Linked DNA regions of Homo sapiens: regions 1, 3, 4 and 5 are each linked to region 2. Evidence: fine-mapped expression QTL. A gene starts in region 2. Each other region holds a variant in brackets. All regions are shown on one strand. Distances are from middle to middle. Region 1 overlaps KLHL6 (kelch like family member 6). Region 2 holds the start of YEATS2 (YEATS domain containing 2). Region 3 holds the start of KLHL6-AS1 (KLHL6 antisense RNA 1). Region 4 overlaps MCF2L2 (MCF.2 cell line derived transforming sequence-like 2). Region 5 overlaps KLHL6 (kelch like family member 6).

What was found. PIP is the estimated chance that this variant, and not a neighbour inherited with it, causes the effect.
Region 1: its variant is fine-mapped to the expression of YEATS2 in lung (TOPMed, PIP above 0.99). The same link has a PIP of 0.9 or more in thyroid.
Region 3: its variant is fine-mapped to the expression of YEATS2 in thyroid (GTEx, PIP above 0.99). The same link has a PIP of 0.9 or more in lung.
Region 4: its variant is fine-mapped to the expression of YEATS2 in CD8 T cells (CEDAR, PIP 0.95).
Region 5: its variant is fine-mapped to the expression of YEATS2 in lung (TOPMed, PIP above 0.99).

The regions. Positions count from the first base shown.
Region 1 is chr3:183,505,933-183,511,036 of GRCh38, reverse strand. KLHL6 (kelch like family member 6) reads left to right here. Exons shown (of 7, transcript NM_130446.4): 3 at 2,529-2,978. Among named protein-coding and RNA genes, the nearest start is that of KLHL6-AS1, 40 kb to the left of the region's middle. RefSeq lists an enhancer at 2,010-3,209. The variant A/G (reference allele first, on the strand shown) is at 2,191.
Region 2 is chr3:183,694,940-183,700,043 of GRCh38, reverse strand. YEATS2 (YEATS domain containing 2) reads right to left here and starts at 2,247. Exons shown (of 31, transcript NM_018023.5): 1 at 2,051-2,247. RefSeq lists a silencer at 1,873-2,342.
Region 3 is chr3:183,547,204-183,552,307 of GRCh38, reverse strand. The region is part of intron 1 of KLHL6 (kelch like family member 6); the gene reads left to right. It overlaps KLHL6-AS1 (KLHL6 antisense RNA 1), which reads right to left and starts at 3,573. Exons shown (of 2, transcript NR_046687.1): 1 at 3,345-3,573; 2 at 1-255. The variant T/C (reference allele first, on the strand shown) is at 2,654.
Region 4 is chr3:183,389,147-183,394,250 of GRCh38, reverse strand. MCF2L2 (MCF.2 cell line derived transforming sequence-like 2) reads left to right here. Exons shown (of 30, transcript NM_015078.4): 2 at 4,472-4,555. Among named protein-coding and RNA genes, the nearest start is that of MCF2L2, 37 kb to the left of the region's middle. The variant G/A (reference allele first, on the strand shown) is at 2,354.
Region 5 is chr3:183,521,056-183,526,159 of GRCh38, reverse strand. All of the region lies in intron 2 of KLHL6 (kelch like family member 6), which reads left to right. Among named protein-coding and RNA genes, the nearest start is that of KLHL6-AS1, 25 kb to the left of the region's middle. The variant C/T (reference allele first, on the strand shown) is at 3,067.

The sequences.
Region 1 (5,104 bases), 190 kb after region 2:
CTGGGCCCACTGTTCTTTCTCTGTACTTTGCCTCTGTGTCTTATTTCTTTTCTCAGTCTCTCGTCCCACCTGACGAGAAATACCCACAGGTGTAGAGGGGCTGGCCCCCTTCAGCATTGACCCTCGGAGAAATGCTTTATTTATTTATTTATTTATTTATTTTGAGATGGAGTTTTGCTCTTGTTGCCCGGGCTAGAGTGCAATGACACGATATCAGCTAACCGCAACCTCCGCCTCCCAGGTTCAAGCATTCTCCTGCTGCAGCCTCCTGAGTAGCTGGGATTACAGGCATGTGCCACCACGCCTGACTAATTTTGTATTTTTAGTAGAGACGGGGTATCTCCATGTTGGTCAGGCTGGTCTCCAACTCCTGATCTCAGGTGATCTGCATGCCTCGGCCTCCCAAAGTGCTGGGATTACAGGCGTGAGCCACCGCGCCCGGCCTAAAAAATGCTTTTTAAACTGACAATCCTATGTGATCTGACACAGAAAGATAATATTTTGCAATAGAGGTTGATCCAAAAAGTCAGGGATGTGTTCCCTGGAATGCTCTGGAGTAAAGTCCAGAGCCTAGGTCACCTTGGTCCACTCTTAGAACCAGTCCTGCCCCACTATCAACCTTCAGGCTCGATAGCCCCACTCCCCACAGCTCCTGCCAACCCTCCCCAGTCAGGTCTGTCCTGTCCCTACTCTCACCAGGACCTGCCTTCAGAAGGCCTCCCCCACCCCCACCAGGTCTTGCCCCCTCAGCCTCCCCTTTCCTCTCCCCCCATTAATCGATCAACCCATGGGCACCAAGAACTTGACCCTATAAGGAGTCCAGTAGACGGGGAAGGGAGCTAGGAGGTTGAAATTGTTCAAAGCTAAGCTCCAGAGAACAACAAATAAGAATGAACCAATGCATTTGAGACATGTCATCTGTAAAATGGATATTACAAAATATAATGGATATAACAGTGCTTTGTCATCTGTAAAGTGCCCTACAAGCACAAGGGACTTGAATTTTTATGAGGATGGTGATAACTTAAAAGTGGGACCTGAGAGCCAATCAATAATTTTACAAATTGATTTTTTAATGACAAAAGCGGTACGTATTCATTTTAAAGGATATATAAATAAATAAAACATATAAATAAACAAAAACAGAAAAATTCTCATAGTCTTCTTAGAGTGTCATACCTTCTATTATTTATATAGTATATTCCCTGTCCATCCCATGAGACCTGTTTCTGTGGGAGAACTATGGTTCCCTTGATGACAAATTTTGCCATGTGACTTACTCTGGACGGTTTTGTGTAAATGGATATAGCATGCGCCCCCTCTGAGCAGAAGCTTTAAAAGCCTCTGTGTGGTTCTGCCATCTTTTTCCCCTTCTGTCATGGGACCAGCATGTCTCAGGTAAGGGCTTTCCATCTTCCTGGCCCCTGGAATGAAGAGCCCCGTGAAGAACACATAGTGGGTAAGAGGAACATTTATTGTAAGCCCCTGAGACGTGAGGGTTGTTTGCTGCTGCAGCAGAATTTGCCTTAAGATACCTGATAACCCAAAGAGATAACAACCATTAATATTTTGACCTACATCCTTTCATCTTCTTTCTATGACTTTATTCTGTGTATGTTTTCTTTATAAAAATAAGGTCACAATGTACATATGATTTGTGACGTGCTTTTCTCATTTTATCTGCAAATATTTCACTTATAGCTCTAAAAAATAAGGATTCTTCTTCAACATAAACATGAAACCATTATGGCACCTAAAATGAATCATAATTGTTTCATTAGCACCAAATATTAGTCATTGTAAACATTTCTCCAACTTTAAAAAATATATATTGTTTAAATCAGGAATCCAAATAAGATCCATACTTTGCAATTGGTCAATGTGTCTTAAATCTCTGTTTATCTTTAGGTTCTCCCTCTCCTTCTCTCTCTCTTTTATCCCCTTGTAATGTATTTGTTGAAGAAACTGAACAAGTTGTTCAGTAGAGTTTTCCACAATCTGGATTTTGCTGATCATGTTCCCATGACGTCTTTAGCAGGTTCCTCTTTCCCTGTATTTCCTGTAAATTGCTGAGTAAATGTAGAGGCTTAATCAGATCCAATGAACAGATTTTAAAACTCAATACATTATGAACATTTTCTATTTCATTTAATATTTTCTACAACATGTGTTTTAAGTATCTACAGAGCT[A/G]TCGACTGTATGAATGAATTATATGTATTTAGCTAGTCCCGTAAGTGTCTCATTGTTTTAAGTCGACTGTATGAATGAATTATATGTATTTAGCTCCTCCCGTAAGTATCTCATTGTTTTGTCGACTGTATGAATGAATTATATGTATTTAGCTCGTCCAGTAAGTATCTCATTGTTTTAAGTCTACTGTATGAATGAATTATATGTATTTAGCTCATCCTGTACTGTTGGACATTTAGGTTGTTTCCAATTTTTGGCTAATACACATAACTCACTGATAAACCTCCTTGTGGACTCACCATTTTCTGGCCTCCTTTCCACCCTTTCTATTTCATCAGTTCCTGCGGATGGTGGATGCCTGTGCCAGCTTCCTCACTGAAGCCTTGAACCCAGAAAACTGCGTTGGAATACTGAGGCTGGCTGACACACACTCGCTGGACAGTCTAAAGAAGCAGGTTCAGAGTTACATCATTCAAAACTTTGTGCAGATTCTGAACTCTGAGGAGTTTCTTGACCTGCCCGTGGACACTCTGCACCACATCTTGAAGAGTGATGACCTTTACGTGACCGAGGAGGCTCAGGTGTTTGAGACCGTGATGAGCTGGGTCCGGCACAAGCCATCAGAACGACTCTGCTTACTCCCCTATGTCCTCGAGAACGTGCGCTTACCGCTTCTGGACCCGTGGTACTTTGTGGAGACGGTGGAAGCAGATCCTCTCATCAGGCAGTGCCCAGAGGTCTTCCCGCTGCTCCAGGAAGCCAGGATGTACCACCTTTCTGGCAATGAGGTGAGTAGAAGATAAGAGGTGCTATATTTAACCAGCGAAGTAAGGAGTTAGCTAGGGGCTCACAGAGATGCAAGCAAAGCGGATTCAAAAATCCTTAGGGCATTAAGGAGAAAACACTGCCCTGTTCATTGCTGAGTCGGTCAGTTCCAGAAGCCCTGATTCCTGATCTATGAGGCCGATCCCACGTGTTCAGACAGTTACTGAGCGCGTTAGGTGAGATGTAGAAATCACCCAGCACCATGCCTGGCCCGTGCTTCCTCTTCCCAGTTGTGGAAGGGTGGGAGGTTGGGGGTCACACTGCACGCACAAACAAGAATGTGCCCTGGGCCGGGCCTGGTGGCTCACACCTGTAATCCCAGCAGTTTGGGAGGCCCAGGGCGGGTGGATCACGAGGTCAAGAGATCCAGACCATCCTGGCCAACATGGTGAAACCCTGTCTCTACTTAAAAATACAAAAAAATTAGGTGGGCATGGTGGCATGCACCTGTAGTCTCAGCTACTCGGGAGGCTGAGGCAGGAAGATCACTTGAACCCGGGAGGCAGAGGTTGTAGTGAGCCGAGATCACGCCACTGCACTCCAGCCTGGGCAACAGAGGGAGACTCTGTCTCAAAAAGCAAAGCAAAACAAAACAAACAAAAAACAAAAAAAACAAGAACGTGCCCTGTCTAGTCACTATTCCATGGGGGTGCTGCTCTTCCTTGCCCACTCTGGTGAAATCTTGTGTCTCTTGTATATACTCTGACATCACTTTGATTTAGACTCTCACCATCTGAATTTCTGGAAATTTCTCAAAACTCATCTTCCTCCCCCAAGTCTGGCCTCCCTCCAATTTATTCACCAGCTGAAAGATCTGAAACTCAAGTCTGATCATCTTGCTCCTGGGCTTGCCTTCTTCATTGGCTCCCCATCACTTTCAGAATAAAGCCCATACTTCCTGCCTACGTTCCCAGAGCCTGGTCTTGCATCATTAATCTCCTGCCTGCTTCTCTAGTGTCCTCTCCAACCTCCCACTTCTGCTCTAGTCCTAATGCACAGCTTGTGGTTCCCCAAAGTGGATGTGCTTTTTCTGCCTCCAGGTCAATCTGAATGTTGTTCAAATGCTTTTCTCTTCTTCATCTAGCTGACTTCTACTCCTACTTCAAAACTCAGTCCAAGCATCACTTTCTCCAGAGACTTCTCCTTTTATTTATTTATTTATTTATTTATTTATTTATTTATTTATTTATTTTTGAGAGGAGGTCTTGCTCTGTTGCCCAGGCTGGAGTACAGTGGTGCAATCATAGCTCACTGCAGCCTCGACCTCCCAGGCTTAAGTGATCCTCCCACCTCAGCCATCCAAGTAGCTGGGAGTACAGGCATGTGCTACCACACCCGGCTAATTTTTAAATATTTTGTAGAGACAAGGTCTCACTATGTTGCCCAGGCTGGTCTTGAACTCCTGAGCTTAAGTGATCTTCTCATCTCAGCCTCCCAAAGTGCTAGGGTTACAGGTGTGAGCCACCACACCCAGCCACTCTCCGTGTTCTCATAGCACTTGGTGCATTGCTCCATCACAGCACCAACTGCTGCATGGCAATGATTTGAATTTATTATATGTAAATATCTCTAGACTGGGAGCTTGTTATAGTAGGAAATATGTCTTATTGCACTTTACATCTCTAGATCTTAGAAGAGAGTCCTGAGACTGCTATATAGTGAATGAGTAATTAGTAAATGCTTGTTGAATGATTAAATGGGTACTACGAACGGTGAATAAACATGTCATTTGGATCTACCTGGTTCTCCTTAACAATTCCTGAAGAAGATTTTTCTTCAGAACTTTATAAAGACAAGAACAAATTTAGTGGAGAGGAAGTAATGATATAGGGACAGTTTGTTAACAGTTTGTACACATGAACACCCATACATATATCTCACTATGCAGTGGTTCTGGGATTAGCTACCAGGCTTTCTTCATTAGGCCATTGGTAGAAGCCTTAGCCAAACGTGGCCCAGGAATTGTCTGTCTGAGGTTCTTTTAGAGTTTCTCCCTTTTTCTGTGTGTTCTTTTCTAGTTTTTTTGTTGTCCTTAGATCCACTGTTCATTCATTCACTCTGCAAACATACCCTTAAATGTTTAGTAGAA
Region 2 (5,104 bases):
ATCAATAAATGAAAAAAACACAAGACACCATTTTTCATCGATTAAGTTTAGTTTTGGGGCAGATGGAAATGGGGCACTTTTTTTCTAATTTGCACTCATTAGTTTCATTTCCTCACATCCGGTTCCCACCTCCCACTTCCAGAACTATGGACAGGAAGACCAATGACCAAAACCAATAACCACCGTGTTGCCAAATTCAATTGACAATCTTAATGAACATCTCAGAAGCCCTGATAAAAGGACCAATTCAACATCTTCCAGAAACACCTCTTTTGGCTGCCATGATACATGCCATTTTGGTAGGAGCTTTTTCTCCTACCTCACTTGCTGTTTCCTGCGTCCTTTCCCCAACCTTCTTCCTCTACCAGACCTAGAGGTATTTGAGTGTCTGCGCCCTTTTCACTTCTCCACACTCTTTCCCCTCAGTGATCTCACACAGCACCATACCTTTGAATATCATCTACGTACAGATCACTCCCAATTTTTTTTTTTTTTAAGAGACGGGGTCCTTCCTGCCTTGTAGCCAAGGCTGGTCTAGAATATCTGGGCTCAAGCGACCCGCCTCGGTCTCTCAAAGTGCTGGGATTTCAGGTGTGAGCACCGCGCCCAGCCACTCCCAGATTTTTATCTCTAGCTCTAGCCTCTCTCCTCCTTGAGTTCCAGCCCTCTACATCCAACTGCCTCAACACACCGACTTCATAACTAACATGCATCTAAAATTTAATACATCTAAAATAGAATTCGTTTTTCCCACCTCAAATTTCTCTCTTCCATTCTTCATCTCAGTAAACAGCACCACCACCTACTCAGTTGCTCAAAACAAAAATCAAAAAAGCAAAGATTCCCACCATTCCCTCACCAATCCAAGTCTTGTTCATTCTACCTTAAAACATTTAAAAATCTGTTTATACTTCCCCATCTCCCTGCCACGGGCCTAGTCCAAGCTACTGCAAAGAGCACAGTAACTGACCTCGTAGGTTCCTCCCCAGCCCTCTTCCTCTACATAGCAGTCGGATCATGCTACTCGCCTTCTCAAAACCTTCAAAGGCTTCCCGGGAAAAACTAAACTCCTTATCAGGGCATCATCTGCCCTATCTTTTAAAGAGTATACACAAACAGGAATATACATCCAAGGGTAGTATCTCTAGATCGTAAAACTGCGGGCATTTTTCTCTGGCTTTGCTTGTATTTTTAAATTTTTCTACGCTGAATACCCTCTACTCATTAAGAAAGGGGAAATGATATTGCTGAATTCTATATAATATTATACCGCATTTTTTACATGTGAGCGAGAAAAGGGAATGGAAAACGTGGGTCAACTCTGTAACTGCTGAATGCTTAGATGAAAATACTAGCCAACATCAAACTAAAAAAAAATGATGTGTCAGGCCTGTAAGATTGCTGATGGCATTTCTCTTCCTCTGGTTTCTATTTCTTAACATAATCACATTCATGATGGAGAAAACCTCATTGTCTTCTGCAGTCTGGCCACAGCCCTTCAAGCCAGCCTTTCCTGCAGGAGTCCTCACTTTCCGAGGCTTCCACTCCGCCCCGCACTGCCCGCAGCTCCGGCGCGTTGGCCCCGGCCCCATCCCTGGACCCCCAAAGCCTCTCTGACCCCTCCCCTCCATCCCAGGGAGGCCCGGTGGGGATGGCGACAGGTTGGAGGGGCATTCCAGGATCCTTTCGGTAAACCCACGACTTTCTGGTGCTGGGGCCAAATCTTGCCTCCAAGGCCAAGAGCTTAACATCCTAAAAGCTCCGGCCGCTGTGGCTCGGGGTCCCGTATCCCCTCAGCGCAGCGCCCCGCTGAAGAGGAAGCCCCCAACTCACGTTCCAATTCCAGGCTCCCGCTTCTGCGGCTCCCCGGCCCGCACCTGGGATCCTCCCTGCCCTCCCCTCGGCCCCGGGGCCTCACCGGGTCCCGCTGCCGCGCTGCCTGCCGATGGGGGAGGGGCGCGCACGTGCCCGCGCCGCCCCCGCCCAAACAATGCCCCGGAGAGCGGGGCGCGCTCCCGGCCGGTCCCTTCCTGCGCCCGCCAACACTCACCCTTTCTCCGGGTCTCCGGCTGCAGCGCGGGCCCCGCCGGCCGCCGCGAGAGAGCACGGCGAGGTGAGAGAGCGGGCGAAGCCCCGCGGAGCTGCCCCGCCACAAGGCCCCAGCGACCCCCGCAACCTGCGGAAGCACACGGCGCGGTGGAGCCCGCCCGGCGCGTTCCGCCCCGCACGTCAGCAGCTGGGCGCGTCGGGGCGCGCGCGGCGGCGCGCGCGGCCTCGGGGCGGAGCTCCCAGGGATGAGGGCGGGGCGGGGCGGGGCGGGGCTGGTCCGGGCTGGGACCCCGGCCCGCGAGGGCACTTCCTGGGCAGTGTGGGCGTCGATTCTTGCAAAGGCACAGTCGTCCATCACTTTCCTGCCCCAGAAGATGGCGAATTTCAACCCCAAGTTTGACAGAATATTCATTCTGCCGGCGTGTATGAGCTTCCCTATTAATCACAATAGTGACTATGATGTTTGTGTGTGCCATCTTTGTGCCAACCCATGTGCTAAGTGCTGGGTATACAAAATAACAGTAGTTATTTCTAGCCCATTTTACAGATGAAGAAACTGAGGCAGGGAAGGCTTGAGACTTATCTCAGTCACACTAGCTAGTGACAATCCAAGTCCAGTTTTCCACCTAAATATCACTTGAGGCCAACATTCTCTTTCGTTGTAACTCTACCACCCTACCCAAGACCCTGTAATCTCTCTGCCCAAGACTATGAATAGCCTCCCAACTGGTCTTGGGGAACTTCTGTTCCCCTTCAATCCCTTCTCACTGTATAACGATTTACTACTGGAGCTGAGTGGTGGGTTTAGGAAGTTCACTTTTTTTTTTATACTTTACATACATGTTACCAAATTTTTAATGTATTTAATGTTTTTATCAACGCATAATAAATATAAGTGGTGTTTTGTTTTTTGTGTTTTTTTTTTTTTTTGAGATAGAGTCTCCCTCTGTTGCCAGGCTGGAGTGCAGTGGCATGATCTTGGCTCACTGCAGCCTCCGCCTCCCGGGTTCAAGCGATTCTCCTGCCTCAGCCTCCCAAGTAGCTGGGATTACAAGGCGCGCGCCACCACGCCTGGCTGATTTTTGTATTTTTAGTAGAGACAGGGTTTCACCATGTTGGCCAGGCTGCTCTCGAACTCCTGACCTTAGGTGATCCACCCGCCTCAGCCTCCCAAAGTGCTGGGATTACAGGCGTGAACCACCACCCCCAGGCTAATTTTGGTTTTTTTAGACAGGTCTCACTATCACCACAGCTAGTCTCACACTTCCGGGCTCGAGAGATCCTCCTGGCTGGGCACGGTGGCTCATGCCTGTAATCCCAGCACTTTGGGAGGCTGAGGCGGGCGGATCACCTGAGGTCAGGAGTTCAAGACCAACCTGGCCAACATGGTGAAACCCCGTCTCTACTAAAAATACAAAAATTAGCCAGGTGTATTTGGGCATGCCTGTAATCCTAACTACTTGGGAAGCTGAGGCAGGACAGTCACTTGAACTCGGGAGGTGGAGGTTGCAGTGAGCCATTGCACTCCAACATGGGCAACAAAAGTGAAACTCCATCTCAAAAAAAAAAAAAACTAAGAAAGGCTTCCTTGAACCTTAAGCTAAGACTCAAGAGATAATAGGAACTGGGGAGATAAACAAATTTCATGGAGAAGGGGGTGAGGTCACAGGTCAGGATGAGTGTGTTGGTGTTCCCCTACTCTTAGGGTTTAACAGTGAGGTGGAAAGCATAGAAATACCCAGATAAGTGCCAAGAAAGCTAGAAGCTGACTTCCCTTGGTGTAGCTTGGAAGGCTGTCCAAGTCTGTGAGAAGGCTCACACAGTAGGGCTTGGGAGCAGGCCATGGCGTTGGGAGGAGTCTGCAATAGTGCTGCTGGAGCGCTGCAGCTTGCACATTTAGGTATGTCAGAATTCCAGACTTCTCTTGTTGCTCCCTGCCTGGCATGCAGAAAGTAGCATGGTTAAGAGCCATGGACAGACCAATAGGCACTGTGCCAGGGGGCAGGTTTCCTAAAGCAGAGGCCTTGTGGTGGGCTGATGGCCAGGGAATGGCTACAGAACGTAGCTAAGACCCCAAGGATAGGCAGTACTGAAGATACCAGTGGAGCTGAAGCACCCCTAAGTCAGCTGGTGAGAGGAGCGGGGATGGAGGAGTGGGGATGAAAGATGAGACATCAAACTCTGAAGGTGCTAAAGCAACAGGTCATGAGCTTGCCAACCAACCACCTCAGCAGCTGATGCCTGCAGGGCAGTGGAGACCAGAAGTCACCAGAGACATAGCAGCAGAGGCCAGTGAGAACCCAGGCTATAGCTTGAAATCCCGCACACAGATCTCCCCTCCCACCGCTGCCTTGAGGCTTCCCCTGTATCCTGTAGGCCGCCTTGGGAAGTCAAGGGGAAGAAGGGTAAAGTTCTGATAAGACTACAACTTTGAACTGTTTACCCAAATATTCACCAAAATGAAACTTTTTTTTTTTCTTTTGAGACTGAGTCTTGCTCTATTGCCCAGGCTGGAGTGCAGTGGTATGATCTTGGCTCACTGCAACCTCCGCCTCCTGGGTTTAAGTGATTCTCCTGCCTCACCCTCCCGAGTAGCTGGGACTACAGGCGCGTGCCACCATGCCCGGCTAATTTTCTGTATTTTTAGTAGAGACGGGGTTTCACTGCGTTAGCCAGAATGGTCTCGATCTCCTCATCTCGTAATCTGCCCGCCTCAGCCTCCCAAAGTGCTGGGATTACAGGCGTGAGACACCACACCCAGCCTATTTGCCCTTTTAAAAACATCACTTGCAGCTGGGCGCGGTGGCTCGCGCCTGTAATCCCAGCATTTTGGGAGGCCAAGGTGGGTGGATCACCTGAGGTCGGGAGTTCGAAACCAGCCTGGCCAACATGGTGAAACCCCATCTCTACTAAAAAAAAAAAAATGCAAAAATTAGCTGGGCGTGGTGACACATGTCTGTAATCCCAGCTACTCTGGAGGCTTGAACCTGGGAGGTGGAGGTTGCAGTGAGCCGAGATCATGCCACTGCTCTCCAGCCTAGGTGACAGAGTGAGA
Region 3 (5,104 bases), 150 kb after region 2:
TATTAAACAGTCCCCTACGGACAGACATCTGGACTATTTCTAATCCACATTTTGCTATTACAAACAATGTTGTAATGAATAACCTGAAACATGAGTTTTTTTCATATGCATTTCTTGAAGGGGGTTTGCTGAGTCAAATGCATCTGCAGTCTTAGCGGTTATTGCAACTTCTCTTTCATTGGGGTTGAATCATGTTGCGTTCCCCCACGGCATCACCAAAAGAGGGTGTCATCCAACCGCTGAAGTTTTACCAATCTGATAAATGAGAAAGAATATCTCAATTTAGCTTTAATTTGCATTTTTCTTATTTTTAGTAAGATCAAACATCTCTTCGTATGTTTAAGGGGCATCTGCAGTTCTTTTTTTGTTGAACTGTCTCTTCACTGCCTTTCTGTTTTTCATGTATTTTTTTAAAATTAAATTTTATTTTTTATTAAAGATATGCAAATAGTAAACAAAGCGTTAAATAGTATTTAAAGGCTTATAATGAAAAAACAAAAATTCCTATTTCCTCCTCCACCCTGTCTCATGCGCCAAAGGCTACCACTTTCAACTTCTATTTGTTTCTTCTGGCACTAGCTCTATATTTCTGCAAAATACACTTATACTGCTCTTTCTTGATTTTTCAGTGTTAGACATCATTCACTGATTTCAAATAAGGATTTAGTATCCTTACCTAACCTCTTACCATAAGCTTTCCTTCCCTGTAATCTTTCAACATAATGTTATCACAACAAGAGTTTACATTATTATGTTCACGAAAACCTTGTTCTCTGTTGAGCCAAATTACTCAATGATCACGTTTCTTTTCTTGTAAACCTTTTGTCTTTCCTGAAGTTATTAATTCACTCATTTTTTCATTTGCTTTGTTTTGGGGTGTCTTTTGCTCACAGGCTCACAAAAATCTTTCATATGGTCCAATGCATCAAACAATCTACCAGTTCCATTTCCTCAGAATCCTCCTGCCTTGCATCATGTTACACATGTTCCCTGGATTTGCACGCTGGCTGGGATTCACCTGCTTCTCCATCATTCCCCGGGACTGTCTGCTATGTTGAATGGAGCCTTCTCCCTTCAACCCCTATCTTTCTCTTCCCTGGTTTACCATCTTACCCTGATAAGCACATTCTCCAATAACTTCCTAAGAAAGAGTGCATGGGAAGTAATTTTTTTTTTTTTTTTTTTCTGAGACAGAGTCTTGCTCTGTCGCCCAGGCTGGAGTGCAGTGGCAGTATCTCCGCTCATTGCAAGCTCCGCCTCCTGGGTTCATGCCATTCTCCTGCCTCAGCCTCCCTAGTGGCTGGGACTACAGGCGCCCGCCACCACGCCCAGCTAATTTTTTTTTATTTTTAGTACAGACAGGATTTCACCATGTTAGCCAGGATAGTTTCAATCTCCTGACCTCGTGATCCACCCACCTTGGCCTCCCAAAGTGCTGGGATTACAGGCGTGAGCCACTGCGCCCAGCCCATAGGAAGTAAATTTTTAAGGCCTCGCATATATTTTTGTTTTGTTTTGAGACAGGGTCTTGGTCTGTTGCCCAGGCTGGAGTGCAGCAGCTTGATCATGGCTCACTGCAGCCTCCCTGGGCTCAAGCAATTCTTCCACCTCAGCCCCCCAAGTAGCTGGGACCACAGGATGTACCACCATGCCCGGCTAATTTTTGTATTTTTTTAGTAGAGATAGGGTTTCACCATGTTGGCCAGGCTGGTCTGGAACTCCTGACCTCAGGTGATCCACCCACCTCCGCCTCCCAAATTGCTGGGATTACAGCTGTGAGCCACCCACCACGCCTGGCCTTTCTTTGATTTTAAATAACATTTTGATATTTCACAATGATGTGCCTTGGAGGGGTGTGTGTGTGCGTGCGTGTGTGTGTGTGTATGTGTGTTTTACTCCAACCATTATGCTATGCATTTGATGAACCCTTTTAATCTGGAGAGTCACATCCTTTAATCCTGAACATTTCCTCATATTACTGCCTGGTAATTACATGGTTACTGTTTTCCTTGTTTACTATTTCTGGATCACTTATTCAGTAGATGTGGACTTCTAGAACAGTCTCTAGCTTTCTCATCTTCTCTCTCCTGTTGTCCATCCTCTTATCTTTCTGTTTTACTTTCTGGAAGATTTTTCTCAATTTTATCTTCCAACCTGTTGAGAATCTCAGTTTTTAACTTCCAAGACTTTTTTCTTGTTTTATGTATGAAGCTTCCTTTTTATAACATCCTGTTCTTGTTTTGTATAGGTCATATTTTCACTTAATCTCTTTGAGGTTTATATTTTTTAAAAAACCACTCTTCTGTTTTTGTTTGTTTTTTACTGTTTGTTTTCACTGTATTTTTCTCTTTGTTTTTGTCTCTTTTATTCTATTTTATGTATGTATTTATTTATTTCCTAGAGACAAGGTCTCCCTATGTTGCCCAGATAGTTTCAAACTCCTGGGCTCAAGGGATCCTCCTGACCCGGCCTCCCAAAGTGCTAGGATTACAAGCATGAGCCACCACACCTGGCCTCTGTCTTTTATTTTAGAGGCTATACTTAAATATCTGGTAGTCTTTGGATATCTGTTCCTATTTAAGAGTCAAGCACTAACATGGTGAAACCCCATCTCTACTAAAAATACAAAAAATTAGCTGGGCGTGGTGGCACA[T/C]GCCTGTAGTCCCAGCTACTCGGGAGGCTGAAGCAGGAGAATTGCTTGAATCTGGGAGGCGGAGGTTGCAGTGAGCCAAGATCATGCCACTGCACTCCAGCCGGGGCAACAGAGCAAGACTCAGGTGTCCCGACCTGACGAGTGCCATTCAAGTTGGATTTAGCCATGAAATAAGTTACAAAAAACTTTACATTTATCAGCACTTTGGGAATTTTGAAACTACAGATAAGGGATTATAGATATATAATGCTGAAATATTTACTATCATATTGGTTCTGATCCACAATATTGGAAAATATTAAAAGTGGAAAATATAGGGCCTGACCCTGGTGTTACAATCATTGGCTTCACTTGAGTTCTCAAGTGTACCCACTGTGGCAGCAGCAATCCTCAACACATTTGCTGTTAGCCAGATTTTTAATACAGACCTACATGGCCTTAACTCATTCTTGTTTTTCTTGGCACTTATTCTCTTTTTTAAAATTTGTTTAAATTTTACTTTAAGTTCTGGGATACATGTGCAGAATGCGCGGGTTTGTTACATAGGTATACACGTGCCATGGTGGTTTGCTGCACCTATCAACCCATCATCTAGGTTTTAGGCCCTGAATGCATTAAGTATTTTTCCTAATGCTCTCCCTCCCCTTGTCCCCCACCCGCCGACAGGCCACGGGTTGTGTTGTTCCCCTACCTGTGTCCATGTGTTCTCATTGTTCAACTCCCACTTATGAGTGAGAACATGCGGTGTTTGGTTTTCTGTTGCTGTGTTAGTTTGCTGAGAATGATGGTTTCCAGCTTCATCCATGTCCCTGCAAAGGACATGAACTCATTCCTTTTTATGGCTGCACAGTATTCCATGGTGTATATGTTCTTGGCACTTATTCTATCACCTGGGCTTTCTGACTCTTTTCTGACATCTTACCCCATTATGGAGACAAAGCTCAGGATTACAACATCTACATGTGGCTTAAGAGTAGTCTCTTGCCCCACTTTTCTGCCATGCAGTAATTGGTTAATATGTAATAATGATTAACAAGTGCATAGATTGTGCTCACAATAACCTTCCCATTCCTGGCCTTATGCCTGATTTTTGTAGCTGGCGGGTAAAGTCCTCTCAACATAGCCTCAAGGAACCAGACCTAGAGACTGCGGTACAAGACAGGAGTGAGACAGGAATCCAGACAAGGATTCCAGGCAGCAGCATCAACAAAGGAGATTGCTAATGACTCAGCCTCAGCCTGGAAGCTTTTCTATGCATGAAGGAAGGGCCAGTCATGAGACAGGGCAGAGAAAAGCCTGATAACCCCTCCCCTCATCACTAGGACTCCCCTCCCTCTGCCAACCCTGGGAATCACAGCAGGGCTGCCCTCACAGGTCACTGTCACTTACAGAGTGTGCCATATTTTGCAGTGAGCTGGGCTTCCCAAATGGTGAGAACCAGTTTCTGGTTCTAGCCACAGTGAGGTCCCATATATTTTCAGAGCGCACTGTCTTTTCACCTTGCACACCCTGACCCTGCTTCCTTGTCTCTTTTTTAACCCTTTGATCCAGACTGATGTCCTAAGGCATGCTGGGTCCTTGCTGCTATGGGGGTCTGTCAGCTCAGCCCCCAGACATAAACTGGAATGAATGTTCCAACAGTATCCTGCCTGTGCATGTGTGTATGAGCACAAGGAGGCTCTGATTTTTACATTTCCTCCTCATTTTCAGCTTATGTAGCCTACACTAGCAAAAGAGTCTTGGGGAGCTGAGGGGTCATAGGAAATGACCTGTTAGCCACATTTCTGTTCTCTGTGAAGAGGCCTGTTTTCAGTTTAGACATCATGGGGAAACCACTCTTCCCATCAAAGTGAGCTCCCCCAAGGATGAAATGGACACCATGCTATCTACTTGATATTATGAAGACTGAATGAAATAAAAAGAATCCAGCAAAGTGCCTGAAAAAATGTAGGCCGTCCATATTCCAAACTGGGAAAAAATGCTTAATGCAAAGATTACCACGTCACGTATAAAAACAAAATACTGGAAGCAACCTAAATGTCCACAGTGAGAGAATGATTTTCATATTATGCCTCTGTTGAAATTGGTAGCAATATAATAAATAGTCATTATGAAAAGCATGGAGCACCGTAGGAAAAATATTATAATGAAAACAGGGGGCAAAGCAAGATGCAAAATTGCATGTAAACTATGGAAAGATATGCATGTGAGAAAAGGTAGACAAATAACACCAAAATGAAAACTGTTAACATTATCAGAAAGCCCCATAATCCCTTACCCAAAAATCTGGGAGCCAGATGTGCTTTGCCATTCAGAATTCTTTGGATATTAGCATATCTTAAATGTTATATAGCACCTCCAGCGCTCTTTAGTCTAATGCATTAGTACTTCAGCAGTGAGTATACAAATAGTTGTCCTAAGTGGAATAAATAAAGACTCTGAGGTCGGGTG
Region 4 (5,104 bases), 310 kb after region 2:
CAGCGCCTGAGAGCAGAGATCCTGGTTCATGGCTTGTTACGCGTTGTTGCAAACTCAGTTGTTGAGATCTAGTTTGATCAACTGGCAGATCCTTCTGTTCCTTCTGTCCCCTTGAGTCTCTGGGCAAAGCAGTAATGTCACAGGGTCTGCCAAACTTGGGGCAGCTGTTCTCTGCTCCAGACCATACTTTTTCCCCCTTAACCTAGGTATTTATTTATTTAGTTCTTTTTCTTTTTTTCCCCTCAGATCATACTTGAATCTTTTAAATCATAGTGTGACAGAAATTTCAGAAGAGCAAGAGTGGGAGGCTAAGGGTCTCACTGCCCTTTATCCTTTAGCAGTTGCAGCAGTCAGACAGTGTTGAGATATCATCAGCCCTGTTTCCTGCCCTCTGTTGTAAGGAGGATGGCTCCAGTCATTAGCAAAGGTCCTGGCTCCAGAGCGCATGCTGCTCTCTCAGCCTGGGAAGTGGGCAACACAGGGATATTGCTTGCTGCCTGCAGTGGAATTCCCATGGGACATGCTGGACTATTATTTCATCGCGTAAGAGTCTGGAGGTTGTGTTTGGCCTTTGATACCGTCTGTATTTCTGGAACTGTGGGCTCAGGGTAAAATAGAGTCACACTTCTGTGTACTTATCAAGGATAGAAAAGAGACAAGTTTTTCCCTAGTATATTTGTTTGCCCAGGATAGAAATTGTGTTGAAATTGAATTATCACTTCCCTTTGCCTTGTGTGGGTAACAAAGAGACAAGTTTCTGCCAGGCGCAATGGCTCACACCTGTAATCCCAGCACTTTGGGAGGCCGAGGTGGGTGGATCACCTGAGGTCGGAAGTTGGAGACCAGCCTGACCAACATGGAGAAACCCTGTCCCTACTGAAAATACAAAATTAGCCGGGCGTGGTGGCAGGTGCCTGTAATCCCAGCTACTCAGGAGGCTGAGGCAGGAGAATCGCTTGAACCCGGGAGGTGGAGGTTGCAGTGAGCCGAGATCATGCCATTGCACTCCAGCCTGGGCAACAAGAGCGAAACTCCACCTTAAAAAAAAAAAAAAAAAAGAGACAAGTTTCTCCCTAATCTGTGCATGCCAAAAATGGCAAAGAAGCAGGAAGCCTCCACAGACCTCTGTGAGGCCAGGGCAGGTGTGTAACAGGCACCAGCGCCTTGGTGGGTCATGGTTCTGCTCACCTGTTCCTGGGAGAAGGAAAAACCCTTTTACTGGTGAGAACACTGAGACTCAGAGTGTACTTGCCCTGATCACCTATCTAGAAGGTGGCAGAAAGGGCCTTTGCATGCAAGCCTGTCTGAATCTGAAGCAGATCCTTTCCCATTGCAGTGGAGGTGTTCTTTCAGAACCAAAGACTTCTTGTACTTCCTCCCCTACCTACCTATACAGGAGTGGGAGGCAGGGCCTGCCAGCCGCAGGGTGATCTTTGTGTCTCTTGGTGTAGAGCATAAGTGTACTTTACTGGGGGCAGAACAGAGCATGCCCTATTCCAACAGGACCACAAGTGTCAGGCAACTGAAGGCTGGGTGTATCTGCAGTCATCTCCATGCCGAGTCAGAGGATGAGTCTGGGAAAGCCTCATGATCTGTTGCAGCTGGCCAGGTTGGGTCATGTGGCTCCTTTGCTAGGAAGACTTCAAGGATAACCATGTCACTTCCTGGCTGGAGAGCAAGCACTCTCAGCAAAACCTGCACTTAAAGCAAAGCAGCTCATTGCTATTCTTAGAAAAACAAATTATGAATTTTAGTCCTGTTCATTTGATAGCCACAGGAGGCTAGCGAGAAAGGTCTCTTGTCGGGGGCTGGGGGGATGGGCAAACCTCAGATTCCCATGACACTAGTCAGCCTCTCAGGGTTGCAGGAGCCTTTGCAACTCAAGGCCAAGGGTCTGGGAACTCTATCACGCGTGGCCGAGGTTTGCCCTCTTAGCGTCAGGTGATCCGGGCTCTACAGTTATTTGTTGTGTAACCACAGGCAAGTTTAGGATCTCTCTGGGTCTCCATGTTGTCATTTGAAAAATGAGATGGCGTGGGGATCGTTGACTTCGCTAATGTCTGCTCCCCTTTCAGATCTTACATCTTTAAAATGTTTAATTTAAAGCACACCTCAAATATTGACATGTAAGAACAATAAATTACACCTTATGATTTTTGTTTTTCTCTCGGTTCATCATCTCTGAAATATGCTTGCTTGGCCAGGCGTGGTGGTTTGTGCCTCTAATTCTAGCACTTTGGGAGCCCAAGGCAGGAGGACTGCTTGAGCACAGGAGTTCAAGGCTGCAGTGAGCTATGATTATGCCACTGCACTCTAGTCTGTGTGACAGAGCAAGATCCTATATCTTAAAAAA[G/A]AGAAATCAAAAAAATGCTCAGGTATGAACAAATAATACTGAAGCTCTATTTCTGAGTATGCCACTGTCCTAGACCACTGGGAGATTGTACTCTGAAAACTCTTTAATTACATAACTTCCGTTTCTGCTGAAATTCTCTATGTTGTTGTCTACTTGTGTTTTACATTTTATTACAGAAAATTTGAAACGTAGCAAGAGAATTATGTAACAAACCCCTGTGGACCCATCAACCAGCTTCAATAATTATCCACATTTTGTCAGCATGTTTCATCTACCCCCCACTTCCACCCCATGCATAGTTTTAGTGAAGGGGAGTGCTGGAGTATTTGTCAGCAAATCTCAGACTTCATATCATTTCACTGTTAAATGCTTCAATTTGTGTTTCTAACAGAGAAGGCCCCCTTTTTATAAAATGTGACTACCATGCCGTTATTACACCCACCGAATGAACAGTGACGAAGGAGTTCTTTGAACTTTTAGTGAATTCAGGGTGGAAGTGGTATTGGGATGAAGAAGCTCTGGTCTAGATTTATCCCCTTTACCCAAAACAATGGGGGAATTCATTGAAGGGGATCTTGGGGCTTAAGCTGGCACTTGGCCCACCCCTTACAAGACTTTCAGAAAAAAACAAAAAAAGGCTTTTAGAAAGCAAATTTGGGAAAGGCCTGTCTGTTCAGAACAAGGGATATAACTAGCATTTGCTCAGCACCCTCTATATACATCTCCATATATATTATCTCCTTTAACCTCCACACCAAAAAGCTGAGAGTAGACCAAGACTCAGAGAGGACCTTCCCAAATATTACCTTCTGATTGGTCAACACTAGAATATCATAATGTTACCATGACCCCATAATGAATCAGTAGGAAATTCCCACCTAGCATCAGAGCACAGGTTGTTTGGTTCATGCCTTAATCTAACTAGATGTTTAACTCCTGTAGAAACAATAACCAGTTCATTCATTTTTTGTTATTGTTTTTGTTTTGTTTTGTTTTGTTTTGAGACAGGGTCTCCATCTGTTGTCCAGGCTGGAGTGCAGTGGCACAGTCATGGCTAACGACAGCCTCAAACTCCTAGACTCAAGAGATTCTCCTGCCTCAGCCTCCCAAGTAGCTGGGACCGCAGGCATACATCACCATGCTTGGCTAATTTTTAAATTTTTTGTGGAGACAAGATCTTACTCTGTTGACCAGGCTGGTCTCAAACTTCTGGCCTCAAATAGTCCTTCCCCCTCGGCCTCAGTACCCAGCCACCAGTTTATTCTTTAAGATTCCCTGGGAAATAATTGAATGAAGATAATATCTTAGGCAGAGATAACATGAAAATGCCTTCCTCTCTTCAGCCTAGGTTGAAAGATTCCAGTTGGTCCTCCCCTCTCTCTAATTCCTTTTCCCCAAATGGAAATGAGGGCAAATCACAGGGCTTATAAGTCACTTTCTAGGGTTAGAGGAACTTTGTAGATTTGTGCTTGAAAGGATTGGATTTTTGCATTGGAAACCTATATAACTTATTATTCAGTTAGGAGAATCTTTAAATAGAAAAATGAAAAAGTGCCTTCTTATATACATTTAGCAGTAGGAAGAGGCCCCTTAAAGTATTCTGGAAGGGGGAAAAAAAGGAATGGAGATAAGTAGGGGAGGAAGGAAGTGAGGTAGGGAGGAAAATAAAAATTAAAGAACCCTCATGAATCCCAGATTGATTTTATGACCTGTTTTGAAAGGAGCTCTAGTAACTTATGTTGTTTGTGTTTAAAATGTCCTTCTGCAGACCCAAAGGTGTAGGCAAATACCTGCCTTCGTAATGAGGTCATCCAGCAGGTTTTCTGTGAAGCTGCTGGAGCTTAAACTTCAGGGTTCTTTCCTTGTATTGGTCCCTCCCAAAGCCTTGGTAGGGGCTCTAGAAATGTGTTCCACGCTCAGATGCATAAGCTCCAAAGCACACAAATCCAGATACAGCCCTGGATCTCAGCAATCAAGTTCTCAAGGGAATGTTGTGCCAGCACCGTCTCTTGATAAGTCCCAGATTTCCCAATAGTACAACTTGCCTTTGTTTCTTTTTAATTTCTTCTTGTAATTTGCACATGTTTAACTAACCCACTTTGTATTTCATTTGTGCAGATGAAATTATGCAGCAGGAAGTCAGACCCCTGATGGCGGTGGAGATAATAGAACAACTTCACAGACAATTTGCCATTCTTTCAGGTAAGGGGCACATTCATTTGCATTTCCAGATTTTGATGGGGGGGTCTTGATGGGAAGGTCCAGCCTCTTGAACCTTGAGGAATGTTATACTCAAATCTCACTCACCCCTTAGGCTTCACCCGGGACTAGAACAGGCTGAGGCCTATCCTGCCAGAAGAGGGTGGGATCTCATACATATTATTCCCTTTGCTGTTTGGTGCAATCTGATCTTTCCCAAAGGAGCACATTTCTTTGTGGTTGTAAATAACAGAGCTGAAAAGATTTTGAGGAAAGAAAAAGAGACAACTACTGACATCAGCTGCCACCATGATGTTCTTCCAATGTTCCTTTGGATGTTCTTCCAAGATTCAGCCTTACAAAGGTCTTAGTTCTAAGGGTTCCCGAGCGTTGCTGAGGTTGTTTGTTCTCTGGGAGAATTGTCTTTTACTCTTAGCTCATTTAAGGGATTTCCATCAAGCATTTGATTGGGAATGAAGAGAGGCTGTTCTGACTAAAAGTCTAGCATTTTTTGAGCCTAGACACAACCCTGAAAGGTTGTCATGACTTGAA
Region 5 (5,104 bases), 170 kb after region 2:
TTTTTTGTATTTTTAGTAGAGAGGGGGTTTCCCCATGTTGGCCAGGCTGGTCTCGAACTCCCGACCTCAGGTGATCCGCCCGCCTCGGCCTCCCAAAGTGCTGGGATTACAGGCATGAGCCACCGCACCCGGCAAAAAATTATTTATTCTTTTGAATGGATAAAACATACTCCCATTCCAAATTCAGAACCCCGGAAGGGAAGCAGTGACACTGCCTGTTTGCAGTGTCCTGCTGTTCTTCATATTCCATGCATATAGCAGTCTCTATATGCATATCACTCCCACTCAGGCTTCCATTTTTTCTAACACAACGTAGGCACACTATACATCCTGTTTCGCATCTTACTAGTTTTACTTCACATTCTATTTTGGGCATTGCCGCAGGTCTGCGTGTGGAAACTACCTTGTTCTTCTCAATGGCAGCATGATATTGTTGGGGTCACATTAGATGTGAAACATGTCCAGTTATTGCTAATGATCTCTTATAAGGCAGAGTGGCAGAGTAGAAAGAACACGGGCAAGCAGACCTAGGTTTAAACCCTGGGTCAGTCACTTATTTGCTATGTGGCTGTGGACCAGTTACTTAAATTTTCTGAGATTCAGATTTTTCATTTGTAAAATTAGGCTGATAAACACCCCACCTTCCAGGGAAAGCTATTATGAAGTTAGATGAGATGATGTTTTCAAAGTACAGCATATTTCCAGGAATGGACGTGTCTTCCCATCAGTTGTGTGGTTTTTACTTTACTTTGGATAGTTTGTGCCTTGGATAAATGGGGCTGACATTGAGCTATGAGAACATTTCCCTAAGGTATTCCTAAATTTTCCCCCCCGGGTTAGGATTGTAAGAGACCATGTTTAAAAGTGTGTGTGTGTGTGTGTGTGTGTGTTTTTTTTTTAGAGAGTCTCACTCTGTTGCCCAGGCTGGAGTGCAGTGGTGCAATCTCGGCTCACTGCAACCTCCGCCTCCCGGGTTCAAGTGATTCTCCTGCCTCAGACTCCCGAGTAGCTGGGATTACAGGTGTGCACCACCATGCCTGGCTAATTTTTGTATTTTTAGTAGAGACGGGGTTTCACCATGTTGGTCAGGCTGGTCTTGAACTCCTGACCTTGTGATCCACCTGCCTTGGCCTCCCAAAGTGCTGGGATTACAGGTGTGAACCACCATGCCCAGCCAAAAGTTTTTTTTATCATGTTCATACGATACATGATTAGAATGATGAAATGAATCAGTGCTTTATTTTAATTAACTCAGGGTTATAGGTAGAGAAAAGTGTGCCAGTGATGGCATTTTATCTGGTCCTTTTACAACATCTGCAGAAGTCAGTACCACCTCTGTGGGACTGAAATGAACAGGAATCAGATTATCTCAGTGCTCCCCGCCCCACCCAGTAATAAACGCTTCTTAATTTTCACCATTGGTGTGACTCAGCTGCCCTTAGTGTCTTCCTGTTACCCACCAATTGCTTCTCTCCCAGAATTTCCTGGTGCAGGAAGAGACAATCCGATGACCAAGCCAATCAGCTCTATCACTGTTTGGGAAGAGCTTTTCCTACCAGGCCAGGCAACGTCATGAGCTGCTGGCCAGTTTACAGCGTGGGTGCCTTGGGTTTACAGACCAATCAGCGATGCCATGAAACAGGACAGTTTCTTTTAGGAGGAAACTTTGGGTGTGGCAGGTACTGATTGATCTGCCCACTAGAAGAACTTTGCAATCATCTGGCCGTAATGCATTGGCCAATCATGAGGAGAAACACATTTTCCCCAACTAGTTTTTGGAAAGGTAAAAGTAAGAGAAGCATCTAAGAGGAAAGGCCTAAGGGACCTGTTCTCACATGCGGTGGGATCTTTGAAATGAATGCCACCCAGTAGGGGCTCTAGAGAAGCCAAAGGTCTCCCTTTCCTTAACTGGACCTTCAGGCTTCTGAGTCGTAGGTAAGCAAGCCAGCCCCAAACTATGGACCTGGGACAATGGCTGTAAGGACTTGGCAAAATTTTTCCATCTTGAAGGAGAATGATTTCTCAATCAGGGCACTGCCATGTTGTTTGAGAAGTTTGCCATGTTTGTTACTTTCATTTTTATTATTAAAAACTCATGAGGCCGGGCACAGTGGCTCACACCTGTAATCTCAGCACTTTGGGAGGCTGAGGCGGGTGCATCACCTGATGTCAGGAGTTCCAGACCAGCCTGGCCAACATGATGAAACCCCGTCTCTATTAAACATACAAAAAATTAGCCAGGTGTGGTGGTGGGCGCCTGTAATCCCAGCTACTCAGGAGGCTGAGGCAGGAGAATCTCTTGAACCCGGAAGGGGGAGGTTGCAGTGAGCTGAGATTGCGCCACTGCGCTCCAGCCTGGGCGACAGAGTGAAACTCCATTTAAAACAAAACAAAACAAAACACCTCATGAAATGTAGCCAAATACCACCTGTACCCCAAAAACTTATGGAAAAAAAACAAACAACAACTCATGGGAAAAAAAACCAACTCATGAAAGAGTAAGGGATTGGGAGCTTATCTGCAGGCAGCAAGAAGATGTGAGGTCAGGGAGACCATTCTCACCCTGCATTTGGTCTGGGATGTAAGGATCCCTACGGTACATAACAGTTGGTTAGAAGCAGCAACTTAGGAGAAGAAAACCAGGCTAAGTCCCGTGGCCAAAGTGAGGAAAAAGGGGGATGCTGGAGTGGGAGCTTGGTCATCTGGCCTGGGCCTGAGAAGAGCCCAGGAGGGGCTCCCACAGAACCCTCTGGGGCAGTGACATGGTGGCAGTTAGAGGAGACATTGGTGAAGGTCCAGTGTTGCTTATTTCCCTAGGATTGCCTTTGTTTACAATAGGATGAATGCGCATGAGGCTAATGCAGATGAGACAGCCACGTGGTCAGTGTCTGACTTGATGGCCTGGGTTGGCTCCTTGGCTTATGCAATGCCTGGGACATAGCGGGCATGCTATGAATATTGGTGGAATACATGAATATGTGAATAAATGCACTAATGAGTGTGTCACTCTTGTTCATTACTAGCTGGATGTAAGGACTTCTCAAAAACTGCTCAAGAAGCCAGGCG[C/T]GGTGGCTCACGCCTGTAATCCCAGCACTTTGGGAGGCTGAGGCAGGCGGATCACGGGGTCAGGAGATCGAGACCATGCTGGCCAACATGGTGAAACCCCGTCTCTACTAAAAATAGAAAAATTAGCTGGGCCTGGTGGCGTGCGCCTGTAGTCCCAGCTACTCAGAAGGGAATCGATTGAACCTAGGAGGCGGAAGTTACAGTGAGCCGAGATCGCACCACTGCACTCCAGCCTCGTGACAGAGTGAGACTCCATCTCAAAACAAAAACCAAACAAACAAACAAACAAACAAAAAACTGCCCAAGACTCCAACAGAAATTACTTGGTCTCCTTCCAGGCGACACTAAGAAGCCCAATCCTGGCTCTTGGAAATGGTGTGGGCCAAGAAAGGAGGAAATATTTCACAGGCTAATACTAATAATTGCTTCATTTTATAGGTGCCTGATGAAGTGCCAGGCACCTACTATGATATACTATGTACACACATGAATTTCTGTTGTCATGGACAGAGACTCACAGATTATATCTATTCAACACCATAGAAGCCAGTCAATCTAGGCAAGAAAACCAGCTGGATTATTTCCTTGCTATCATCTACATAAAATCAGCCTGTTGACTATTTGATGCACTCCCTCTCACACTTAAATTTGGTCAACCAGTGTTGCTGTGTGGCTACTGTAAGCATTAAGCAATCAGGGTTAGTCTACTGGGTCCACATGACAGCCACAGTGGCCCTTTTCAGAGCATTCACCAGAGTCTTTTTTTTTGAGACAGAGTCTTGCTCTGTTGCCCAGGCTGGAGTGCAGTGGCGCCATCTCGGCTCACCGCAACCTCTGCCTCCTGGGTTCAAGCGATTCTCCTGCCTCAGCCTCCTGAGTAGCTGGGATTACAGGAATGTGCCACCACACCCAGCTAATTTTTGCATTTTTATTAGAGACGGGGTTTCACCATGTTGGCCAGGCTGGTCTCGAACTCCTGACCTCAGGTGATCCACCTGGCTTGGCCTCCCAAAGTGCTGGGATTACAGGCCTGAGCCACCGTGCCCAGCCAGTAGCAGCTATTTTGCCTGAACTACATTGTTTAAAGTCATGTAAGTCTAGCCAGGCACGGTGGCTCACGCCTGTAATCCCAGCACTTTGGGAGGTGGAGGCGGGCGGATCACCTGAGGTCAGGAGTTCGAGACCAGCCTAACTAACATGGTGAAACCCCTGTCTCTACTAAAAATACAAAAATTAGCCAGGTGTAGTGGCGGGCGTCTGTACTTCCGGCTACTTGGGAGGCTGAGGTGGGAGAATCGCTTGAACCCGGGAGGCAGAGGTTGCAGTGAGCTGAGATCACACCATTGCACTCCAGCCTGGACGACAGAGTGAGACTCCATCTCAAAAAAAAAAAAAAAAAAATCAGGTAGGTCTTTTTACCCTCAATGTATAGATGAGGGGCATAAAATTCAGCAATGTTAAGGAAACGCTAAAGTCTCCACAGCTAGTAAGAGGGGAGCCTGGATTTGACTCCTGTGGTCCTGTGCGTAGCCTGTGTGTTCTCCAGTGCACATGCTCTGTCCATGCCTCAGAGTGACGCCTGAAACAAGCCATCACCCTGAAGGCAGCTAGGGCCTCCGGGGAGGGTGTCCTCAGGGAGGACTGCCCAGTGCAATGTTCTGAGAACCAGCAGTGCTCTGTGCGAGTGTGTCGGGGGCAAGACTGGCCCAGCACCCTCTGGGGAACCTTGGATGCCTGGGGCCACCTGTAGGGGAAAGAAAGAGATCAGACTGTTACTGTGTATATGTGGAATGAAGAAGACATAAGAAACTCCATTTTGTTCTGTACTACGAAAAATTCTTCTGCCTTGAGATGCTGTTAATCTGTAACCCCAGCCCCAATCCTGTGCCCGCAGAAACATGTGCTGTGTTGACTCAAGGTTTAATGGATTTAGGGCTGTGCAGGAGGTGCTTTGTTAAAAATGTGTTTGCAGGCAGTATGCTTGGTAAAAGTCATCGCCATTCTCCAGTCTCGAGAGTACCCAGGGACAGAATGCACT